2 separate regions of the Homo sapiens genome follow, and region 1 is linked to region 2. Evidence: fine-mapped expression QTL. Tissue or cell type: blood mononuclear cells. Region 2 holds a variant in brackets; the other region holds the start of a gene. All regions are shown on one strand. Distances are from middle to middle.

What was found. PIP is the estimated chance that this variant, and not a neighbour inherited with it, causes the effect.
Region 1: SRGN starts here. The variant in region 2 is fine-mapped to the expression of SRGN in blood mononuclear cells (TOPMed, PIP above 0.99).

The regions. Positions count from the first base shown.
Region 1 is chr10:69,086,925-69,089,424 of GRCh38, forward strand. It overlaps SRGN (serglycin), which reads left to right and starts at 1,179. Exons shown (of 3, transcript NM_002727.4): 1 at 1,179-1,312. The coding sequence starts at 1,234. RefSeq lists an enhancer at 1,310-2,500.
Region 2 is chr10:69,052,037-69,054,884 of GRCh38, forward strand. No RefSeq gene overlaps it. Among named protein-coding and RNA genes, the nearest start is that of SRGN, 35 kb to the right of the region's middle. RefSeq lists enhancers at 185-314, 455-564, 685-1,186, 1,187-1,686, 1,816-1,975 and a silencer at 2,826-2,848. The variant C/T (reference allele first, on the strand shown) is at 1,446.

The DNA.
Region 1 (2,500 bases), 35 kb after region 2:
CTGTTCCTTTATTTACATGAGGCAGAGGTTTGTGTTGTTTGCTGAGGTCCAGCAGCTCACTGTGAGGACAACCTCTCCCTCGTTCCTGATTTCTGGCTTATTCAAGGCCAGAGGACCCAAAACTCGAGTTGAAAATTTTGACTAGGAGAACAGATAAAAATAGAAATGGAATCCATCTTAAGAAATGCTCAATGTGAAGGAGAGGGGAATGCAAAATAGTTTTTCTGTTTTACCACAGTCTTTGTAACTGAAAATCCTATGTTCTTGAGATAGAGAGAGAGCCAATGATCCAATGCAAGAAACTGAGTTTAAGAAGAAACTGTTTGCTGGGCACGGTGGCTCACGCCTGTAATCCCAGCACTTTGGGAGGCTGAGGCAGGCGGATGGCCTGAGGTTGGGAGTTTGAGGCCAGCCTGGCCAACATGGTGACACGTCGTCTCTACTAAAAATACAAAATTAGTCCAGCGCAGTGGTGTACGCCTGTAATCCCAGCTACTCAGGAGGCTGAGGCAGGAGAATTGCTTGAACCCTGGAGATGGAGGTTGCAGTGAGCTGAGATCGCGCCACTGCTCTCCAGCCTGGGTGACAGAGTGAGACTCCATCTCAAAAAAAAAAAAAAAAAAAAAAAAAAGAAGAAAAAGAAGAAGAAGAAACTGTTCATCTGAAATCCGACAACTCATTCTTGAAGGTTAGAGCTCAGCTTTGAAGTTTCACTTCACGAGCTTGGCTCAGTGAGGTATGTTACTCCCCGGTGAAAAAGAAAATGAAGAGAATGTTTTATGTTGAAAGTGCTTGGTGACGAAAAGGCAGCACCTAGATCCCTTATCTCATAAAAAATGCAGCAGATTCTTAATATTAGCAATCTAGTGTTTAGATTGTTACCTGAAGAAAGGAAAAACAAACTGTCCCAAATGCTGATTCTACTGTTTCGGTGGGAAAAAAAAATGTCTTGCAGGCAAGTGGCAAACAACAAAACTTTTGAAAAAGCAGGCCTGGGGGGAGTCCAGTACAGTTTCATAATGGGTATGAATAGTTATTTTACTGTGTTCCCCCCACCCCCTTTCTTTCTGGGTTTTGATGTGGATGTCTTTCTATTTGTTCAGGAAATTGTGACGTGTGTTCTGGGCAGGGTTTGAGGTTTTGGAACATTTTCTAAAAGGGACAGAGAGCACCCTGCTACATTTCCTAATCAAGAAGTTGGCGTGCAGCTGGGAGAGCTAGACTAAGTTGGTCATGATGCAGAAGCTACTCAAATGCAGTCGGCTTGTCCTGGCTCTTGCCCTCATCCTGGTTCTGGAATCCTCAGTTCAAGGTAAGACTCAGGAGTCTTGTTCCCCAGCCATCTTCTCTGTAAGCCCTGTGGTCCATGCAAGTCATTATATTCATTTTAAGGCATAGAATGTATAATATTGTGAGAAAGGAGGCAAAGAAGAAGGATTTGGGGTCGCTGAACCCTTTAATATGAGTTCTGTTAAGTTTGGTACCAAGAAAAATTAAACTCTGTGGCGTGTGCAGTCTTGTAAACTCTTACAATGATTGAAATGTGCTATTTTGGGATGAAAATGTGAGGTTTATAAATTTTAAAAGCTCAAAAAAGGAATCTAGAAAATGACTCCTGTGCCTGTTGCATGGAGGAGATGGCACCTTTGACTGTTGGGGGGTGTCTGCCTACCCCTAAGTGTCTACATCAGCCCCAAGTTTTAGTGCGCTGTGACGGTGTCATTGTTATTTTAACACTGGGAGACGTTATATTCCAATTGGGGTGAATCTGACTGTGTGTATTTTCTTTTCTTTTTTTTTTTTTTAAAGATAAACTTGGTTCTTACTGAAAACTCAATTATGGTTAGACATAGTTCATGTAAAACCTCTCAGATTTTAAAGAGAAGGCCAAATAATTTGGTATTTGTGCTCTTGCTCAGAGAAGCATCATATTCGGAAATATCTTCCTAGGTTTATCTACCATTTAGTGTTGTTTAGTCAGACTGAAACAACTTAAAACCTGTAATGACTAAGACAATGAAAATGATAGGCTTGTAAGAAAAATACAATTTGTTATTCTTTGGCAAATAAGGAATCATGTCTAAATAAGACGGAGGTCATGGCTTGATAGAGAGATGGCTGAACCTATAGTAGAAAAACACTAGGTTCCGCCAAATGGTAAGGGAAATGTTGAGTCACAATGACACACATGTCCTAGATTTGTTTCGTCAAAGCGACTTTTGGTTGTCATGATCTTACTTCCGGTGGAGATGAAATCTTACAGATGATCGCAGAGACATTCATTTTATGTTGGAAATTTATAAAATCATTTTCTTCTAGTTATGCTAATGCTGAAAAAAGAGCAAGTAATGTTTCTGGAACGTTATTAATTTATGTATTTTTAAAATATAAAACATTGTCAATTGTAGGGAACAGGCTTCACTGGGATCTTTTAGGGAATATCTTCAGCTTGATGAAATAATTCCCGAATAGCCAAGTGGTCTGACAAGATCGAGAGTAA
Region 2 (2,848 bases):
GAGGTGACATTGAGTTGCAGAAGTAGTGATTTAGTGAGGAGAAAAAGCACCAAGCCCCTGAGGCAGGAATATGATTGGTAAGTTCAAAGCACACGGAAGGGGACAGATGATGTGTCTCACCCACCATGACCTGGGCTGGGAGCTGGGTATCAGGCCTCTTGGCCCAGAGCTGCTGGTCTGGAGTGGGGAAGGTGGTGGGGAGGAGATTTCTCCCGCTTCTGGTCAAGGGTTTCACTTCCTTCAGCCTTGCTTCCCCCATTGTTCAGCTGGGGTGGAGGCTGGTTACCCCTGGCTCTGGCTGGAGCAGTCCAGTGCCATTGTCATTGTCTTTTCCATACAATAAGAACAGAATTCCGTCCTTTCTTTGCTGCTGGCTTTAAACCTCCAGGTCCTAAAGCCCCTTCTCTCACTTCTTTGTTAATCTCAGGGTGTGCCTGAGGCTTTTCACTCTGCCTCCGCTTTCACCACTGCCTGGTGGCTGGTGCGTGGGCTTCTTACCTGGCTCCCTCCTTCACCTCCTGCGAGTCTTCCTTCTTGGATGAGCGCCCCGACCACCTTACTGAAGGAACATGCACTCCTCTCCCAGCTGCCTTTGTACCTTGCTCCTTTCCCCCACGGCATGCTGTAGAATTTCCTTAGGCATTATGTGTTGTTCTGGGTCTCTGTCACCCTCACTGCTATCTACTAGATTGTAAGCTCCACGAGGGCAAAGATGGGTACTTTTTGTTCATGGATATAGCCCAAGCACCTAGAGCAATGCCTGCCACACAGTAGGTACTCAAAAAGTATTTGCGGACTGAAATGAATAAACAAGTGAATGGGTTGTAGGGTAGAATCCTAAATGGCTGAACTGGAAGACTCGCACAGGAATTCCCCTGTGCTGCCCCTACGAGGGAACTGAGATGCAGAGAACAGAAAGGAATTCTTTAGAGAATCGGATGGGAGGCTGGACACAGAGCTTGCCCTCAGGAAATTTACACGAATTGGGGGTGGGGTGGGCAGTGCCACCTCCTTGCACAACTCCAGGGGGTGTCATTTTCATTGAACACAGTATAGGTGGTGCTCCTGGAGTGGTGCCTGGCCTGGGGGTGAGGTAGTTGAGGAGAGACTGTGGCCGGACCATGGTGTGGGGCTCAGAAGAGAGAGTGCAGGTGTGACAGCTCAAAGGGCCCAACCCAAGAAAGAACATCACCAGCCCAGGGCCAGGAAGGGTGTGGTGGAGGATGGGCACCACGGTCAACACACAGAGATCCAACACACACACTCCCAACACCATCTCTGGTGTTTTCTATGCCCAGCACAAGGCCTGGCCAACCCAGTAGGTGAAGTCGCCCAAGGTGCCCAGTAGGTGAAGTCTTTTATTCTTGTTGTTGTTTTGAGACAGGGTCTTGCTCTACCGCCCAGGGTGGAGTGTAGCAATGCTGTTTGCATTGGGCTGACTGAAG[C/T]CTCAATAGGGCTCACTGAATCCTCGATCTCCCAGGCTCAAGTGATCCTCCCACCTCAGCCTCCAGAATTTCTGGAACAACAGCTGCAGGCCACTACGCCTAGCTAATTTAAAAAATTTTTTTTTATAGAGACGAGATTTCACCATCTTGCCCAGGCTGGTCTTGAACTCCTGGACTCAAGCAATTCTCCCACCTCAGCCTCCCAAAGTGCTGGGATAACAGGCATGAGCCACCGTGCTGGGCCTAGGAGGTGAAGTCTTGATGAGGGGCTGTGATGGTCTGGCTTGGGAGCAGAGCTGAGGTTTGCTCTAGCACCTGGCCCTCTTGTCCAGTGGGGCTCACTCCTCTTGACTCTGTTCCCCTTGCTGCTGGCTCTTCACTTTGCTGCCTGATAGAATCTAAAATCCCCTGGGGAATTTTAGAAAACATGGGATGCGAGGGGAGTCAGGGGGCACATCCTCGGGGATTTCCATTCAGGTGGTGAGGAGCGGGACTGGACATCCCCTCACCACGTGATACTTGTGTTAGCCAGGCTTGAGAACCCCTGCTCTAGAAGCTGTCCCGGTGACATGGAAGGACCCGGGTAAAAGATTCATAACCCTGTAGTGTTATCCACACAACTGGTGGGTTCGGCCACTTGGTGGGTATCAGTTCAATGACCGCCACCAGAGAGGATGTAGCAAGGGGATTTTATGACTTGTAACAAGTCCCAAAGCAGTGTCCCCCTGAGCCGGGGACTGGGTCACGTTTTATAAGCATAGGGTAGTGATCCGACTGGATCCTGCCATGCAGTGCCTGCTTCTTCTTTTTTTTTTTTTTTTGAGATGGAGTCTCACTGTGTCACCCAGGTTGGAGTGCAGTGGCGCAATCTCAGCTCACTGCAACCTCCACCCACCAAGCTCAAGCAATTCTTTTTTTTTTTTTTTTTTTTGAGATGGAGTCTGGCTCCGTTGCCCAGTCTGGAGTGCAGTGGCGCAATCGCGGCTCACTGCAAGCTTCGCCTCCTGGGTTCACATCATTCTCCTGCCTCAGCCTCCTGAGTAGCTGGGACTACAGGTGCCCGCCACCACGCCCGGCTAACTTTTTATACTTTTAGTAGAGATGGGGTTTCACTGTGTTAGTCAGAATGGTCTCGATCTCCTGACTTCATGATTCCCCCGCCTCGGCCTTCCAGAGTGCTGGGATTACAGGCGTGAGCCACCAAGCCCAGCCTCAAGCGATTCTTGTGCTTCAGCTAGCTGGGATTACAGACAAGCACCACCACACCTGGCTACTTTTTGTATTTTTAGTAGAGACAGGGTTTTGCCATGTGAGCCAAGCTGGTCTCGAACTCCTGGCCTCCTGTGATCCACCCACCTCAGCCTCCCGAAGTGCTGGGATTACAGGCATGAGCCACCACGCCT